4 linked regions of the Homo sapiens genome follow. The protein of the gene in region 1 purifies or fractionates together with the protein of each later gene. This does not show direct contact. Each region holds a gene or a part of one and is shown in the gene's direction. Other genes may lie near its edges.

Region 1 (5,580 bases):
GAAAACACAAAATAGGAAGAATTGAATTCCTTTTCTGGATGGAGGAATTGGAGATGTTTCCTGAGCCCCTTTTCTTCAAGCTTTTCCCCCCAATGTGAAGCAGCATCAGGAATGAACAATGGAATAGTGAATGTACTCCATTCCTGGAATAAAGCAGGGGTCATACATTCAAACATCTGCAGGGGCCACACGGGGACCATGAATGAAAGAAGAGGGATGAATGGACTTGTGGCAAGCTGGTTGCAAATGCAGCAGGCAACCACTCAGCCCCAACAGATTGTGGCCATGTAAGAAGGGCCCAGTGTGCCAGATCTTACAAGTTTTTCTTGCAAAAAGCCATATGATTTTTTAAATGTTAAATATACTGATTTGAATGTGTTGACATCAAACCTAAAACTTTTTAAAAAGACGTGTAAGCCAATCAAAACATTCTATGGGCCATTAATCTTTTGTCAAGTTGCTTCATTGGTTAAAAGAGTGAAACTGGATGTCACGGATCAACCAGAGAATGTTTATTCTACTCAGATGGAATAATTGTGATAAAAGAAAACCAAAGTAATTCAATAATGACAAAAAACAAAAGGACAGGAAGTTTCTGAATTTGTGTTATCTTGTATATCTGACAACTCGACTGAACCTGTGGAGTTGCAAAATCATAAAGGTAGAACCTGCTAGCAAAGCTCCATGAAATGCTTGCAAGCATTAGCTGATAGGTTTCAAAACAGTATGAATATTAGTCATCACAGATATTCCTGCCAAAAAGGGTAGCGTGTCAGAAGAACATCTGCAGCACACATAAATACCCTCTGCTAAGTTAAACTCAGAGAGGAAATAAGCTTCCAAAGTTGCACAAAGCAAAGATGCTGAAACAGCAGAGCTTTGTATTAAGGGGTTGATAGACTTGCTCTCATGGTGAAACTGTTTGTTGAGGAGGTAGTTAGCTCCCAATAATATTACATGCTTGACCTTTAGCTTTTAGTGACAAAAATTGTTTCAGGACGCATTTGGGCTCAGCCTACTCAATAAGAAATCACATTGTATAAATTGAGCATTAATTGTGTCAAAATGGGGATCATAAGTGATTAATACTCCCAAATTACAATGATATGGTAAAATGAAAAAAAAAATCAGCTAACCCCAGGATATACCCAAATGTGTTATAGGATCAAGTGTTAAAAGCAAGCAGGTCATAATATTTGCTAAGAAAAAAGAAAGAAAAGGAAAAAAAAGCTGCAGAACCCATGGTATTATCTTGAACTATTTTAAAGTAGAAAAATATGAAATCAGACAGGAGCAACCTGCCACATGGAAGATGATCTGAAGAATCATCACTCTTATGATCAGAATCCTGTGAATACAGAGCTTTCATTTCTGGTGGCAGAACCATTTCTCAGTGAGCAACATTGTTTTGCCATAGGACAGAGGAGGTTGTGATCTATTGCAGATTTCTGTGGGTCCTGGATGCCGAGACCAGGAACCCTACAAAGAGAAATCCATGCATGTGGCGTTGCTGAGGATGGCTGCGTGAGTTTCTCTTTCGAAGTAATGTGTTTTGTTTTTTTTCTTTTTTGTCTCAACGTATCCAAACAGTACAGTTGTAGAGATGGGGATGGAATTTTATTTGTCTTTTGCTTTCATTGTTTTCTCTTGTTAAAAGAAAAACAATTGATTTAGAGTTTAAAGGCTGCTCTGCAACTATCAATTATATAAAGCCAAATAGAGTCATATACTAAATCCTTTCTTGCTTCTCAACTAAAAAAAAAAAAAAAAAATCCTGTGAAATCACTTTAGGTTTGCTTAACCAATGTACAGTCATGATTTGAGAGCATAAGAAACCCTATAAGAAACCCTATGCCTTAAGTGAATCCCATTGTGAGATACTTGAGCTATGAGGCGGAAGTTTCAGGCTAAGCAGTGTAATATCTTTTCAGGAGGCTAATATGCTGATCCATTTAGAGCACAGAGGCTGATTGATAACTGTGCTATCAATCCCCATCACTTTGGCAGGTCTTGGTTAGAGAGGAAAGATCTTGCATTTAGGTGAAGTTGAGTCAGGAATTGGCTTTTTGAACTTAGAAAACGTTGCTAGTGTAAGGCTACCTTTTTTATTATTAATCTACAGTTCATATTTATGCAGCTTAAGAAGACTTATTTGGAATAATAAGACCGTGATTCAAGATCTTAGCATCATTGCTTGCAGATTTGTCCAGTATGAAAGATATTTTCATGAGATGAATCACTTAAAGACATTAAGAGTCAGTGATGAAACCACACACTCTCGAGTTTGAAAAGAGACAGGGCTGCTTTAAGAGAGAAACAGGAAGTTGTAACTAGAAGCCATCTGAATACTAAGCCAGGGCAGAATGCTTGTGAAGTAGCAACTAAAGTGGCAGTGTTTCTTCTGAAATTCTCAGGCAGTCAGACTGTCTTAGGCAAATCTTGATAAAATAGCCTTTATCCAGGTTTTTATCTAAGGAATCCCAAGAAGACTGGGGAATGGAGAGACAGTCAAGGGTTATGTCAGAAAAGGATGAGTATCAGTTTCAACATCAGGGAGCGGTGGAGCTGCTTGTCTTCAATTTTTTGCTCATCCTTACCATTTTGACAATCTGGTTATTTAAAAATCATCGATTCCGCTTCTTGCATGAAACTGGAGGAGCAATGGTGTATGGTGAGTGCATAAATTGTGAGATTGATGTGAAACTTGTTGCTTGAGCGTAATTAGAGACTTGTGCTCAGATAGCAAAGTACCGAAACTGGAGAAAATGTGCTGATTGAAATGTCATTAGTTTGATGAAAGGTGCTGCAGCGTAACGAATGCTAATCTCTTTACAGACAAGCCGCCGAAATTTGCCATGTCACGAGAGCAAATGTCACAGTCATGTTCTCACACGGCACATAATGCAAGTCTGTTGACAGATGCGGGTCCATTGTCATGTGGGGAGTCGAGGGCGAGCTGTTTGTTTTTGTAATGATGTTGGGAAGTGATGGCTCTGCAGTCACAAAGAGCAGCCTTCTCTCACTGGCTGCACCGATGAACATTACGAAGTTCTAGAAAAAACATCACTTCAAAATGCCTGGAGTAATTCCTCTTATATCAACTAATTTCAAGAAGAAAACTTGCAGAAACTAACCCCACCCCTCTTAAGAGAATATTGTGTCCAAGTCCTTTTTATTTATACGAACAGTGTCTTATTTTCTTATAATAAAAAGTTATAAATAAACGAGAGTTTCTTTATGCAGTACTTTTTACTTCTTAGCCTGATTTCAGATGTTCTAATTTATAATGATCATTGCTAGTGTTATTTGTTATGTATCTCCTATTTATGTATTGGAGGCCAAGGTGTGGAAAAATATTTAACACCTGCAGTATTGCTCTTTCTGGGCAACTTACCGTATCATTCCTTTCAGAAAGTTTAATAAAGTCTGACAGAGATTATCTGTCTGTACTCTCATCTTTTAAAGTAAAATGAAAGACACCAGTTTTTACTGGTGTTACTGATGAAATAGTTTACTTCACTGCTCTTATCTCAGCCTGATAATGGATAGGAAGTTTGAACACAATGGCAACAGGCAAGGCATTGCTATAATTTATAGCAAATAACATACTTTTATATTTGGGGTTTCCTCATTTTGGAAATCCTGAAACCCTTTCCTAAGCCTGAGATTCAGGGTACAGATCAATGCACATTGTATATGCTAATCCTGTGGTGTCCTGATATTAACAGTGTATAGTTGTGATTTCAGAACCTAAGGAATCCTAAGCCTTAAGTGGATCCCACTGTGAGATACTTGAGCTATAAGGCGGAAGTTTCAGGCTCAGGAGGCTGATATGCTGATCCATTCAGAGCACAGAGTTAAATTCCTTGGTACTGAGGGTCTTTTAAAAATTTTTTGCTTGGGAGTGGGGAGGGACAGCATTAGGAGATATACCTGATGTTAAATGACGAGTTAATGGGTGCAGCACACCAACATGGCACATGTATACATATGTAACTAACCTGCACGTTGTGCACATGTACCCTAAAACTTAAAGTATAATTAAAAAAAGAAAAAAAACATAACCCAAATGCAAAAAAAAAAAAAACCTTTTTTTGCTGTATTGTTTTATTTATTTTTTAAAATTTAGTGGAGACAGGGTCTCACTATGTTGCCCAGGCTGGTCTCCAACTCCTGGCCTAAAGAGATCCACTGACCTTGGCCTCCCAAAATGCTGGCATTACGGGCATGAGCCACCATTCCCAGCCAGTATTGAGGGTCTTAACGGGCACAAGAAAACTCTCATTTAAGAGAAAAAAAAAATCACAATCAGGTGGGAGAGAAATAGCCAAACAAAAAGGAGGGGATGCCATCAGATGTGAAGCCCTAGGTTCCTGTCATTTGCCTATCTCCATCATGAACAGAATTTTTCTCTTGACTTGACTAATAAGTAATCTGCAAGGATATGGAATAGAATCTGAGAAGCCAGAAACAATGTAATTCTTGATATCATATTAAAGGGACATATGTGCTTTAGCAAAACTACCCAGATTTAATAGATTGCCAACCTTTATTAGAGGGAAAGATTTCTTCACATCCCTGAATTTGATTGAACTATGACTCATTTACCAAGTTCAATGGTGGGGATATTGTTTTCGTAAAAGTTTTGATAACCTACTAAAATTCAGTCATGTTTTGCATTCACAATACATACAGTAACTCTTACTTTTGAATCTGAAAAATTCCAGGTTACCTTTAATCCTGCAAAACTCTCTGAAATATTTTTAAATTGTGCTTGAAATAATAAAATAGTAGTTCATTGACCACTGCTATTGAGGTAGCATTTCTCTAAATTGCTGTTCTTAAGGCAGATAAAGGCTTAAAGTTTATGAGTGGAATTAAGTTGGGTTCTCTGATTCCTATTCTTCTTTCATGAGTTTTTTAAAGTAAAAGTTATTGAAAGCAAATTCTGAACCAGTGCAATGTAAAAGGATTATAAAAATTATGGAGATATGCATATATATGTATTCTCTTACTAGAAATTTTGAGTATCTTTCAGTTATCTTGAACTATATAGATCAATGAAAAGACATATTTTAGTGATGTTTAACTTTTTCTTGGCATAGAATCATAATTGTTAGGATGTCAAAGAATTTTAGAGGTTATCTTCTCTATCCCCTTTATTTTAGAGAGGCAGAAGCTGAATCCCAGAGAAGTGAAGGGACTTTCCAAAACTGAATAGCCACTCATGACTGGTCCATGTGCTTTCACTCATCTGCATGTCTTACTAAGGTTCACGTTCACCTGAAAGAACTCTCCCTGTGTTTTCTGAAAGTACTCCATATGGGTGGCATTCATGACTTGTCACATTTCTTCTTCAGGGATGTCCTAAATGTTATATCTTAAATGCTTATTAGGAACTTTCTATCAGTAATGTAATAAAATAGTCTGAAACTACACCAGAGGAACATGATGGGATACTGTAGTAAACACTTTTTAATGATAGGGGAAAGGAGATGCCAAGTGAATTAATTGTCCAACAGCTATAAATGAACTTGGAATCATAGATGGGGAAGGAGCCTTAAAGATCATAAATCCAGC
Region 2 (5,466 bases), on another chromosome or scaffold:
AGGGCGCGGATTACGAGGATTACGAAAAACCCACATTTTTTTCTTTTTTTCTTAACAGATAAGGGCTCTAAAGGCTTAAAGTCACTCGAGGGAGGTCAGAGAGTTTGGGGACTAAATCTCGAGTCTCTCATTAATTCATGCACATATTTAAAAAATATTTATCCGGAGCCTGTTCCAAGCCAGATGAGATGGCAGTGGGTACAAAGATGAATAAAACACTGTCCCTGCGTAGGAAGAAGATCACGTTCTAGCCTGGGGGAGAGCGCCAGGAAAAGTAAACAGGTCCCCCCCTGCTTTGTGAGGTGATGAGTGCTGGGGAGATAGGAAGAGAGTGGGGACCATGTTTCTAATCTGATTCTCCTACCGACGACCAGCTCAGTTGTTATTTACAAATACCTGTCCCCTAAAGGGGGGAGCGGGGTTGGGGGGGCTTGGCCGTGCTGCTGGGGTCAGAGCTCGCAGGGGGGTTCTGCCGCAGTGTGGGGACAAACTCTCCCTTATTGGGCAAATATTTCCCGGGGCGCTACGCTAAGCACACGGGCTCCCCGAATTTCCCTCCCCAGGGCCTCTCTGTCTTTGGATGGCCTGTCAGCAAGTCCCTGCAGCCTCCAGCCCGGCCCGCGCGGCGACCCAGTCCCCTGTCGCCCGAATCTTCCACCGCTGCGAAGCGTCCCCGGGCGAGCGCCCTGCTCTCCGCGCTGCGCGGAAGCCAGAGCCGGTCCTCACAGTGAACTCGCCCAGCCCTGCTCGCGGCTCTCTCGATTTTATGTGGGTTTCGTTGGATGCATTTTGTTATTTGCCTCAATGGATGTTTCACATTAATTTTTAGTTGCACAACGAACGCGCGGGAACATTCTCCGTGAGAGAAAAAGCACGGGTGGGGGGCGGTTACCGGTGCTTCCCCCGGTCGCCTGGGGGTCCCGCACGCGCCCCGCGGGTGCCGCTGTCTGGCTGGGGTCCCTGGGTGAGCCGCGGGCACCGGCTTCGCGTCTCCCCGGGCGCGACTCCGCTTTGCAAGCGCTCAGCACACGGGAAACCCTCGGAAAACACACACGTGTGTAAAGTTTGTTCCACGCAGAAACAAAGGACGCGTGGGGGCCGCTTCTGGGGCCTCGGTCCTTTGTTGGAACCCCGCACCGCAGCCCGGCCCGCAGCCTCGCCCCGCAAGGGGAAGCCGGCCCTGCACAGGCCCGGGGCCCGGAAGGCGCCGCCGCACAGCTCTGCGCCCCCGACCCGCTCCGGCCGCGCGCTGGGCCAGGCCCTTGGCCTCAAGCCTCCCGGGCGGCTCCGGGCCGGACCCGGGTCTCCGTCGCGGGACGCCAGCCTGTTTGTGGGTGCCGTGCTCGGGCCCGGGCGGCCCCTGCCCGACGCGGCCCCACGGAGCCCCTGCACGAACCCCGCCGACCTGGCCCGGGGCGGCAAGTCGAGGTGCTTAGGGCGCCCTGGGCCCGGCCAACCGTGGAAAACCCGGCCCGGGGCACGGGGGGGCGCGGGGGTCGCAGGGCCAGGGCCCAGGCAGGGAACAGAGATTTTTTTCGCGGGGAGGGGGGTGGGAGGTGTCAAAGTTTTCGGGGAACTTTTCCACTTGAGATTCCACGACCCTGCAGTGCCCCCTACAGAAAGCGGCAGCTGGGGAGGGCGGGCGCCCCCGACGACCCCCGACTGCCAGCGGCGGCGCGGCCAGGCTGCCTGGAGTTCTTGTTCCTTTTTTTTTTTTTTTTTTCCTTTTATTTCCTCGTGGTTGTTTGTCGGATACATCTTTTTCCAGAGTGGGAAAAAAAAAAAAAAAAGCGAGCGCCGCCGCCTGCAGTAGAGCGTGCTCGGCCTGCAGAGGCAGTCGTCTCCAACTTTTCCTCTCCCGCTCCAACTCCCCGCGCCCAAAACTTCAGTTCTTGGGGAGCCCAAATTTGCCTGCCGCGCAACTTCCACTCTAATTCAGCGACCAAGGGCCCTGGCAGCGGTTTGCAGCCTGGGGGCCACGCTCCCCAGGCTCAGGCCTGCTCGTTGGCCTGCTCCTAGTGCCTGGACCCAGTTGGGGGAGGCGAAACAGGGCGCCCGAGGAGCACCCCGGGAGAGGGCGGAGCACTCCCGTGCCCCGGGGCAGGAGTGCAGGGAGCTCCCGCGCCCGGAACGTTGCGAGCAAGGCTTGCGAGCGTCGCAGGGGGGCACTCGCGAGGGACGGACAGGAAGAGGGCCAGGGGGGAACGCCAGAACCCGGGACCACAGCACGGAAACGGTCCGGGGCTGAGCTGCAGTCAGATCCGGGGATGGAGGGAGCCGGAGAAGAGGAGTGAGAAGGCCGGGGAGGCAGGCCCTGCTGTCTTCCTGCAGGCCGGCAGCCTGCTGGCAGTGGAGGACCAGGCCGTCCAGGAAAGGAAGGGGTCAGGAGGTCGGGCAGGGCCTCAGCAGGTTCAGACAAGTCCCCAGAAGGGAGCTGCAGGCGCCCTCGAGTCCAGGCCCCAAGCCTGGCTCCGGTTGTCCAAAGAGGGCCTAGGCCAGGCCTCTGGTGCGGAAACTGAGTCACAGCCAGACCTCAGGGCACGGCCTAGACGCTTACGAGCCAAAGTTAGGGGTAGAGAGCAGAGACCTCCGGGGGGTCTCAGGGAGTAGGGGGCTTCAGGGCCTCCCAGTCTAGAGCCGGATTGGCGAGTTAGACGCTTGTAGATCCAAGGTTGGATTGGGGTGGGGTCTCTGGGACGTTGGATCGCTACGCAAGGATTGGGGGGATTCAAGTGCTTAGAGATCGAAGTCTGCCCTGGGTAGGGGGAGTCAGACAATTGGAAAGCCTAGGTAGTTATTTGGGGAGGGGTCTCTACGCCTTGGCGAAGCGCACAGCTGCATCTTTTTGGCTTGAGGCCTGAGGCCTTGTCGAGAAGCTTCCGTGAAAGGGTGGGCCAGCCGGGCCACGAGAAAGAAAGTGAATAAATCAGGAATATAAGTGGGCGGGGGGCCCCTGAGAGGGGGGTCGCAAAGGGTGAGACATGGCCACCAGGCGTTTAACCGACGCTTTCTTGTTGTTGCGGAATAATTCCATCCAAAACCGGCAGCTGTTAGCCGAGCAAGTGAGTAGTCACATCACCTCCAGCCCTCTGCATTCACGTAGCATTGCTGCGGTGAGTCTCCTGGCGGCCTCTCCGACACACGGACCGTGTGCACTGCGGCTCTGCCTGTTTGTCTGTCTCTGTCTGTCTCTCTGTTTAAAAAGAGAAGATAAGAATAATAAGACTAAGAATAATAAGATCTCTTGGCTAGAGTCAGGGGGCATCTGTAGCCCTGGATGAGGAAGAAGCGGTGCTGTGAGGCCGCAGCTCCACCTCTGCCCGGTCTTCTCCTCACTTCCGCAGCACCCCCCCCCCCGCACCCCCCGCCTTGGCGTCACTGCGCTACAGGCCGCCTGTAATTTACATATGTTTTAACGCTAACATTGGGAAGCATTGGGCCTTTCTGAAGCCTTTTTGTTTCGTTTTGTTTGAAGCTCCCCTCCCCCCAGTAATGAGCCTCAGTTTGGTCCTAAGGGCTGGGTCGCCGGATCGTAGACCCAAATCCTTGCAAAATGAACGACTCCCTCCCCTCAAAGAGGAGGGAGTTGTGTTGTTGTTTTGTTTTGTTTTGTTTTTCCGCCCGTTTTCTTTTAACGGCCCCGCAGCCCTCTGTGTGGCCTTGTTCCCTGTGAATAATTGCCTCACTGTTCTTCCTGGGGGCTTGCGTTTGTGAGACTCAAGGTGCTAGCCTCTTCACTTTCCATTTCCCAGACAGGAAATTAAGCTTTCCTCTCCATTCGAACTTTTTAAAAAAAGCCTGAGGAGGTATATGTGAAAATTAACCCCGTAAAATAGCACTTTTTTTTTTTAATTAACCACAACCTTTAGTTAGCCTAGCAGTAGCGTTTTTTAAGGGTGGTCCTGGAAAAATTACTGTTTGGGGTTTGTTTTTAATGGGGGCTACTTTTCCCTTTCTGAGCCTCAGTTTACTGCTCTGTTAAATAAGGGGCGAGTCTGGATGATCTATACCAGACAGTGATCGTTAGCTCTGTAATGTCTTCAATTGAAAAGTGAAGTTATGAAACTGGCTGTAGTTCAGGCTACCTGCTGTAGGCAGACTAGGTTGGAATAGAAGCAGCGTTGGAACAGGCGGGAAATAGCCATCCCAGGACCACATTCTTGGGGGTTATACTTGATATTAGGCAATTTTGGAACATTCATTTCACCTCTTAGGGACTGTATTGCCAGTTTATTTTTTTCTTTATGGCTTTATCTAAATGCTTCAGGAAAATTTTGCCATATGTCATGATTATCATGTCTACAAAGACAGTTTCTCCTTTTTGTAAGTCACAGGTGGAGAATGTCTTTGGCCATATAACTGATAGAAAAGTCATTTTAAGCCGTGTGAGCGGTTTCAGGAATAAAAGCATGTAAACTCAGGTCAAACAGCCTAGAACTAGGGACAGAGTGTGTGTGAGATTTCAGTTAATTAAGAAGTTGAAGGGTTTTTTTTACATTTATAAACGGAAAGGAATTACATTATATTGAAATAAATGTAAAGATGTCTGGTAGCATAGAAACAGGCTAATTCTAGCGCTAATTTTGAAGAAGAAATAATCCAAGAAATCGAGTAGAAATTGGATGAATTCAATTCCTTAATGGAACTTCAGTAATGTTAAATAAGAACTGCATGTTCCTTAAATGACTTGATTTTGTGCTGCCTCAAAAACTACTGAAACTCATATTAAGATTTCTAAGGTATCAGTTTTAATTGAAAAACATATTGTTTATTTTTCAATTTTTAATCATTAAGGTTCAAAATACCCTGAACCTTTGGGTAACATGAGGGTTTTTTTTTTTTTCCCGATTAAGTCAGACAGTTTAAAAACCTAGTATCTGAGACGGGAAGCTTTTTAAAAGTGCATCTCTGAATCAGACCACTTTAGAAAATTATTTTCTAAGTTAGGCAATTTTAAAAAATATTTAAGCTAAGCAGAATAATTAAAAATGGATAGTTAACGTATACAGTTTGGAAAAATAGATATGTCAGGGTATATACAGATACATTTAGCTAACTCACAGTTTTTTGAAAATAGATTTCTAAACCCAACTAAAAATACATTTCTAAGAACGTTAAAAAATGTTTTCTAAATGTCATACCATTGAAAATGTTAATATTTATATTAGTCTGACCATTTAAAATCTTTCTCAGATCATTGAAAGCAGTCATATCATTTAAAATATCCTTATAGTCAATCCATACTATCTCAAAAATAGGTTTTGCAGTCTAACAAACATAGTTTGCCTGAATTCAAATTTAAAAATAAAACACAGATTTATATATTTTAATTGTGTTAAAAAATGGCATGTCATAAATTTCTGAAGTATTTAGGGTTGAAGTGTTACATCTTCACTTTGCTTACAGGTGATTCGTAACAAAATCTATTCTGCACACAGTACGGCGAAATGCTAACAAGACTAAATA
Region 3 (4,829 bases), on another chromosome or scaffold:
GAGAGGACTATGTTTACTAACACCTGATAACAATACATACTATAAAAATGAGTTTGTTTTCTTTTTCCTCCTTCCATAGAAATGACTTCATCTGTTATATCTGTAAAAAATGCCTCTTCTGAGTACTCTGGGACATACAGCTGTACAGTCAGAAACAGAGTGGGCTCTGATCAGTGCCTGTTGCGTCTAAACGTTGTCCCTCGTAAGTTATCTTCTTTCTGTTGGTGGTTTTGTTTCTGTTATCTTTATACCACCTCCTTTAGTTCAGTCAGCAAGTGTGTATTAAGGACAAAGGGACACTGACTTTGATCAGAACACTGTGGTTTGATTATTAGCTTTTCTAGAAAAATACATTTTATTAAAAAAACTTCATAATTGCAATGATATATTAAGAAGGTAAGAGTTGTCAAATCAACCCTTGTACCATATTTAGCTGTTATAAGTATGAGTAGCTTAGAACATTCTTATATGTTAACCAAGATAGCTTTGAATATTAAAATCTTTCAGACAGGTTTTATCATTTTAATGCTTGGAATAGATTATACAGTTCAGAAGACAGTTCTTTTTATGAATTTTTCCCCCGGATCAAAAAGACTAAATAATTTGTCTTAAAGTTAACACGTGATGAAATCAATCTAAAAATGTATAGCCTACCTTCAGTATCTATACATGTATATATGTATATATTTTTTACTATTAATTCTTCTTATTTTAGCTTCAAATAAAGCTGGACTAATTGCAGGAGCCATTATAGGAACTTTGCTTGCTCTAGCGCTCATTGGTCTTATCATCTTTTGCTGTCGTAAAAAGCGCAGAGAAGAAAAATATGAAAAGGAAGTTCATCACGATATCAGGTAATTAAGTGAGACAGGAGTTGACTGATGTATACCAAATATATGTCATTTCTCTAAAGCATTCGTTCTCTTATTAACCACCCAAAGCATCTTTCTTAGGAGAATGGGTAAAAGCTCTGGCCGCCTTCTCAATACATTTGAAAGCATTTACTTCTAACTGCAAGTGCAGAGCTCCAACCACCATTCGTTGTGCCCCGCTCCCCAACCTTCTCGTACCCCATTTTAAGAACCACTGCCAAATGATTATCTCAAGACTGCCTGCTTCTTGAGAAGAATCCCTGCCTGCAGTGGTAGGGATGAAGTAGATATTGAGGTTTGAAAAAAAAACTGACCTGATTGTATCAAGTAATCTGGAAGTTTGTAGAACAATTGGTAGTATAATTTTTATTTTCCTTAAATATTCTAAATCAGTAGGTCTTAACGAGAAGTGTGCATATTAGATAATAGAATTTTAGAAGTAATAACACATGACTTCACACCCTAGAAATTGACATTTGGCAGGTCTAGGGTGGGGTCTGGACACTTGTACAGGCACACTTCAGAGTTATCGCACACTGCGATAAATCACATGAATGTTTTTGTTTTTCCAGTGCATAAAAGGTTATGTTTATACTATATTGTAGTCTAAAATGTGCAGTAGCATTATGTGTAAAAAAACAGTGTAGATACCCCAATTAAAAAATATTGCTAAAAAATGCTAATGATTATCTGAGCCCTCAGTGAGTCTTAATCTCTCTGCTGGTGGAAGGTCATGCCTCACTGTTGATGACTGGTGGCTGATCAGGATGGTAGTTGCTGAAGGTTGCAGTGGCTATGGCAATTTCTTTCTTTGGTTGTTGGGTTTTTTGTTGTTTGTTTTCTGAGACAAGGTCTCGCTCTCTGTTGCCCAGGCTGGAGTGGAGTGATACAATTATGGCCCACTGCAACCTCTGCCCCCTGGGTTCAAGTGATCCTCCCACCTCAGCTTTCCGAGTATCTGGGACTACAGGCATAAGCCACCACACCTGACTAATTCTTGTATTTTTTGTAGAGATGGGGTTTCACCATGTTGCCAAGGGTGGTCTCGAACTCCTGGGCTGCATTGGCTCCTGCCAAGATGTCAACCTGTCCTTTAAAGCTTTGAAGCCAGACATTGACATCTTTAGCCACTAAAGGCCTAGATGGTGTCTTCTTCCAGTAGAAGTCTGTTTTGTCTCTATTGAAAATCTGTTACTTAGTGTAGTTACCTTCATCAACGATCTTTTAACTAGATCTTCTGGATAACTTTCTGTAGCTTCTTCATCAGCACTTTGTTGCTTCACTTTGTATTTTTATGTTATGGAAATGGCCTTTTTCCCTAAACTCATTAACCAGCCTCTGTTAGCTTCCAACTTTTCTTCTGCAGCTGCCTTAGCTCTCTCAGCCTTGATAGAATTGAATAGAGTTAGGGCCTTGCTCTGGATTGGGCTTTGGTGTAAGGGAATGTTGTGACTATTTTGATCCTCTATCCAGACCACTAAACTTTCTCCATATCAGCAATAAGACTGCTTCACTTTCTTATCGTTCACGTGTTCACTGGAGTAACACTTTGACTTTACTTTAAGAACTTTTTCTTTGCATTTACAATTTGGTTTGGCTGTTTGGTGCAAGATACTAGCTTTCAACCAGTGTTGGTTTTCAACATGCTGTCCTCACTAAGGTTAATTATTTCTGGGTTTTGATTTAAAGAGAGCCTTGCTGATGATTGCTTGACTCCAGGAGTTTGAGCTTGCAGTGAGCTAGGATCGCACCACTGCACCCTACCGTGGTTGACAGTCTCAAAATAAATAAGATATTTTTTTAAAAAGTAGAGCCATGATAACTATTCCTTTTACTTGAACACTTAGAGGTCATTGTAGGGTTATTAAGTGGCCTAATTTCAATATCATTGTGTCTCAGGGAATAGGGAGGCCTGAGGGAGGGGTGAGAGATGGGGAGGATGTTGGGGGGGATGGCCAGAACACACACAACATTTATTAAGTTTGCTGTCTCTTATGGGCATCATTCATGGTGCCCCAAAACAGTTAAAATAGTAACATCAAAGATCACTGATCACAGATCACCCTAACAGGTATGATTATGAGAAAGTTTGAACTGTTGTGAGAATTTCCAAAATGCAACACAGACATGAAGTGAGCACATGCTGTTGGAAAAATGGTACTGGTGGCCGGGCACGGTGGCTCACACCTGTAATCCCAGCACTTAGGGAGGCCGATATGGGTGGATCACGAGGTCAGGAGATAGAGACCATCCTGGCTAACACGGTGAAACCCCGTCTCTACTAAAAATACAAAAAATTAGCCGGGTGCAGTGGCGGGCGCCTGTAGTCCCAGCCACTCGGGAGGCTGAGGCAAGAGAATGGCGTGAACCCGGGAGGTGGAGCTTGCAGTGAGCTGAGATCACGCCACTGCACTCCAGCCTGGGCAACAGAGCAAGACTCTGTCTCAAAAAAAAAAAAAAAAAAAAAGGTATTGATACATTTGCTTGACACAAGGTTACCACAAACCTTCAATTTGTAAAGAAAAAACAAAACAAAACAAAAATGCAGTAAGTATCTATGAAGTGTAATAAAAGCAAGGCACAATGAAACGAGTATGGCTGTATTTTTTAAATGCACCAAAGATAACTCATATACATAGTTATTCTTCGGTATCCATGGAGGACCTCCTGCAGATACCAAAATCCAAGGATGCTCAAGTCCCTGATATAAAATGGCGGCCAGGCGCAGTGACTCACGCCTGTAATCCCAGCACTTTGGGAGGCGGAGATGGGAGGATCATTTGAGCCCAGGAGTTCAAGACACCAACCTGAGCAAGATGTCTCTATTAAAAAAAAAAAAAGGAAAAAGAAAAAGATACAATGTATATAACCTGCACACATTCTTCTGTATACTTCGAGTCATCTCTAGATTACTTATAATACCTAATATAATGTAAATACTATGTAAATAATTGTTATAATGTATTGTTTAGGGAATAATGACAAGAAAAAAGCTGTACATGTTAGGTATTTTAAAAATATTAAAACAAAATTTTCTATACATGGTTTGTTGGCTTCACAGATGTGGAACCCGTGGATGTGGAGGGCCAGTTGAGCTCTCTGTCAGTGTTTGGTATGAAAATTCTTATGCCTAAATTCCCAGCAAACTTAAATCTGTAGTGTTTTCAGCTAAGGTTTTAGATAACTTTAATATAAAAAGAATTTTTTCTTTTCCTTTTTTAAAAAATTTTAAAATTTATTATTTATTTCTCTTTTTTTGAGACAGAGTCTCACTCTGGCGCCCAGGCTGGAGTGCTGTGGCGCAATCTTGGCTCACTGCAACTTTGGCCTCCTGGGTTCAAGCGATTCTCCTGCCTCAGCCTCCCGAGTAGCTGGGATTACAGGCACCTGCCACCAAGCCCGGCTAATTTTTGTATTTTTAGTAGAGATGGGGTTTTGCCATATTGGCCAGGCTAGTCTTGAACTCCTGATCTCAAGTGATCTGCCCACCTCAGCTTCCCAAAGTGCTGGGATTACAGGTGTGATTAAGATAGAAATATACCTGTAGGTGTTAGTGTTTTCTCAACTATAAAGTGTTACATGGCTTTAACTAGATTGTCTTGACCAGTGATACTAGAATATGAAACTATTTGAGATTTGTGTTTTGTAAGACAACATTCTAGAATCATCTACATTTGTGTAAATACCATATTTCATTAAGTGTGAAGTTATAACTCTTTAATCAGAATGACAGATTGGAGACATACACAATTTATGACGTTATGGCTTGTGCTTTTTGCTTTTTTGTGACACACACACACACACACACACACACACACACTTTTATATGTTTAGTACCTAAATACAGGCTCTTATCCATGATTCATAGCTTGCATAATTGTAGGTTTTTAGAAACTTATTCTCTTGACATGTATTGGGGATTTTGCTTTGCAGGGAAGATGTGCCACCTCCAAAGAG
Region 4 (3,513 bases), on another chromosome or scaffold:
TGCTTCTCAACCTAGGTAATCTACCTCACCCATTATCACCAGTTATGCTCTTTATTCTAAGGAAGTGCCCCCTAAAACAAAGCTCAGGAGCCTCAACCCGGCGGGGAAGACAGTTTCCTCACGAGGCAGGCAAGCAACACCAGGTGGCTCTCTTTCCCAAGATTCCCTTCTTCCATAGGCTCTTCTTTGGATAACTGCTGACACCAATCTCATTAAGTCCCAGGGAGGTGGCCTTGTCTCCCACTCTCCTTTCACAGTCTAGCCCAACTAGATAATTGACCCTTCTCCAGGCTCAAACATTTAAAACAGAAAGCTCCAATCCCCTTTACTGATGAGAGGATAGTGGTTCTCAAGTATAGACACGGATCAGCATCACCTGGGAACCTGTTAGGACTGCAGATCCAGCAATCCACGTTTTAAGAGCCCAGGTAATACTGTTGCAGGCTCAAATTGGGGAACCACTGGGCTAGGGGTTAATAAAACACAAACACAGAGAGTAACTATTATCTATCTTTTTAAATATACTTTGCCTCTCTGGCATTTGTCTACCACAGGACAAATCCTGGTCTCTAATCTGTCACACAGAACACACCTGTAGACACCATAATTCTCTTCCTCAGTGTCTAGACCAGGAGAGAAAAGGTAAAACCCCTAAGTCCTATTACCTAAGGATCCACTTCTCCTAAGTGATTAATACTAGGATTTACCTCACCCTGTAGGTGGCTGGTTTAGCTACCTCCTTGTAAGACTGCCGCACTGCCTTTATCTGCCTCAACAGGATCAGTACTATATCAAGAGTGCAACTAGTAAACCCTCCACTCACATGAGATACACTTCAGTGCTCCTGCCTTCTGAGACAGCCACAGCTCTGGGGTAGAGCCAGTCCCAAGCATCTGCCAAAACCTCATCTGGCGTCTTCTCCCTCTATTTACAGGGGGAAACCCAGGGCTGAGTGCCACAAAACTAGGGTTGCCAGATATAGCAAATAAAAATAGGCAACCCTGTACTAAAATTTCAGCCTGGAAATAATAAGATAGTATTGTTTTCTAGGTTACAAGTGCAGTCACATCCTGTTTCTGCTCTCTCCTGAGTAACCTTTAACTGCTGTCCCTATCATCATAGTGAATAGTTGGTGACAATTATCCATTGTGGGAAACAACACGGGAAGAATTTTGGGAGCACTCTAACAACAAAAATGTTTAAAAAGGAGATGTTCATTTTCAAAGTTAGATATCAAAATGGAATCCATTTTGATAGCATCCATTAAAATTGTTTAAGTGTTGGAGATACTTTCATAAAAACAGACACTAAAAGGCTGATATCCCAAGAATGTCTTTCCTCAATTTAAAATCATGCAGAGAGTGTCACCTGCTGGTTACAAGTAAGATGAGCTTCAATTATTTTATTATGAATACTTTGTTCAAATCAAATTTCCTTTCTCCTGCCAATCTTTGTCCCAAATATAATGAAATCAGAAGATGGAAGATACTAACATTGCAACAATATTCTTCTTCATTAAAATGCTGACCTGTTTACACTAAAACATATCATCTTAAGGCCCAAACATTTATTTTCAAATAGATAGTAAACCTGCCATTTTGGGCTTTTTTACTGTTCTTTCCTTAATTATTCATGAACCATTCTTAGCTTCTGAACCTAAATTTTTGGAGTATATAGAATCGTCTATCCTACTTTCTATAAGCAAGCTGTTAGAACTTTACTTTCAGTTCTACTTTCATAACAACAAAACCTTATTTACAGAAATATAGCACTAAAGTAGGAGACAAAGGAACTCAGCTCTCTGGTGGCCAGAAACAACGCATTGCCATAGCTCGTGCCCTTGTTAGACAGCCTCATATTTTGCTTTTGGATGAAGCCACGTCAGCTCTGGATACAGAAAGTGAAAAGGTAAGAATTTAAATTGGGTTCATCCATACTTGAATCAGTCATCCTTAAAAATGCTGTATTCTCCATAGTAAAGAACAAAATGCAGCCAGATTATTGACAGTTACTTACATCACCTTTCAGTAAAATGTAAACACTTTCTGTAGCTGTTATTCAGGAGAGTAAAGATGACACAAGGCAGATTAGTCTTAGAGCACATATGCTTCACAAACCATCACTAGATCAGTTTGCGTTGACCTAAGAAGCTGCTTTCAGGAACCATATTTCCTACTTCTACTGGCAGCATCTCTTCAGCAACCATAAGGAAAAGTGGTAGTGTAAGACAGTGTTAAAATCTGGCTGTACCTTTTAAGATAAATATTAGCAATCATTTCTAGTCAGAGAAAACGTTAAAAATTCAGATTATCTGAAAGACGAACTCAGTATGAGGTATTCTCTACAATAAAAAAATTCGGGAGTCTGTATTTGGCCTTTGCTCAGGCTTCTTGAATTTACTGTGAGCTGGATTTGAGGTCTGTTTTCAAGGATGTTGTAACATCCTTGAAACTAAGGTAAACACATTAGTAAATGTTTTTAAATGAGTCAGTGAACTGTATTTACTGCCTTAACTTTAAGAGTAGATGACTGCTGGCCGGCACCTACTGCCGTGGCTCACACCTGTAACCCCAACACTTTGGAAGGCTGAGGTGGGAGGATCACTTGAGCCCAGGATTTTTGAGACCAGCCTGGGTAACACAGAGAGACATTGTCTCTACAAAAAATAAAATAATTAGCTAGGCATGGTGGTGGGAACTTGTAGTCCCAGCTACTCAGAAGGCTGAGGTGGAAGAATCGCTTGAGCCCAGGAGGTTGAGGCTGCAGTAAGCCATGATTGTACCACTACACTCCACCCTGGTGACAGAGTGAGGCCCTGTTTCAAATAAAAAAAAAAAGTTAGGGATAGATAACTGCTGCCTCGGAACTAACCCAAATTAGGGTTCAGTCATCTGATATGACAAATCCTTTGTTTTCAAAAACCTGTTCTATTTCACTGACACCTTGTTAAGAAGGATCTATTGTTGTATTGTTGTGGAGCTTTTTTTTTTTTTTTTCTTTGAGATGGAGTCTCGCTCTGTCGCCCAGGCTGGAGTGCAGTGGCGCAATCTTGGCTCCCTGCAAGCTCTGCCTCCCGGGTTCACACCATTCTCCTGCCTCAGCCTCCCGACTAGCTGGGACTACAGGCACCCACCACCAAGCCCAGCTAATTTTTTGTATTTTTGATAGAGATGGGGTTTCACCGTGTTAGCCAGGATGGTCTCAATCTGACCTTGTGATCTGCCCGCCTTGGCCTCCCAAAGTGCTGGGATTACAGGCGTGAGCCACCATGCCCGTCCTACTGTGGAGCTTTTTATGGAAGAGGAATTAGGGAAAAGAACTATTATGAGAATTAATCTATGTGATTATGGAATAGGTTGTCCAAGAAGCCCTGGACAAAGCCAGAGAAGGCCGCACCTGCATTGTGATTGCTCACCGCCTGTCCACCATCCAGAATGCAGACTTAATAGTGGTGTTTCAGAATGGCAGAGTCAAGGAGCATGGCACGCATCAGCAGCTGCTGGCACAGAAAGG

What was found. Proteins that work in one complex are often made in the same cells at the same time.
Region 2: the proteins of SLC9A9 (region 1) and STX16 purify together in Homo sapiens (affinity purification with mass spectrometry; one large-scale study listed by BioGRID and IntAct). This does not show direct contact.
Region 3: the proteins of SLC9A9 (region 1) and CXADR purify together in Homo sapiens (affinity purification with mass spectrometry; one large-scale study listed by BioGRID and IntAct). This does not show direct contact.
Region 4: the proteins of SLC9A9 (region 1) and ABCB1 purify together in Homo sapiens (affinity purification with mass spectrometry; one large-scale study listed by BioGRID and IntAct). This does not show direct contact.

The regions. Positions count from the first base shown.
Region 1 is NC_000003.12:143,845,239-143,850,818, reverse strand, and holds the start of SLC9A9 (sodium/hydrogen exchanger 9), read left to right. Parts: upstream 1-2,350; 5' UTR 2,351-2,496; coding exon 2,497-2,671; intron 2,672-5,580. UniProt on the Homo sapiens protein: Endosomal Na(+), K(+)/H(+) antiporter. Mediates the electroneutral exchange of endosomal luminal H(+) for a cytosolic Na(+) or K(+).
Region 2 is NC_000020.11:58,649,026-58,654,491, forward strand, and holds the start of STX16 (syntaxin-16), read left to right. Parts: upstream 1-2,257; 5' UTR 2,258-2,981; coding exon 2,982-3,113; intron 3,114-5,466. UniProt on the Homo sapiens protein: SNARE involved in vesicular transport from the late endosomes to the trans-Golgi network.
Region 3 is NC_000021.9:17,560,623-17,565,451, forward strand, and holds part of CXADR (coxsackievirus and adenovirus receptor isoform 1 precursor), read left to right. Parts: intron 1-79; coding exon 80-202; intron 203-715; coding exon 716-854; intron 855-4,805; coding exon 4,806-4,829. UniProt on the Homo sapiens protein: Component of the epithelial apical junction complex that may function as a homophilic cell adhesion molecule and is essential for tight junction integrity.
Region 4 is NC_000007.14:87,504,292-87,507,804, reverse strand, and holds part of ABCB1 (ATP-dependent translocase ABCB1), read left to right. Parts: intron 1-1,761; coding exon 1,762-1,908; intron 1,909-3,355; coding exon 3,356-3,513. UniProt on the Homo sapiens protein: Translocates drugs and phospholipids across the membrane. Catalyzes the flop of phospholipids from the cytoplasmic to the exoplasmic leaflet of the apical membrane.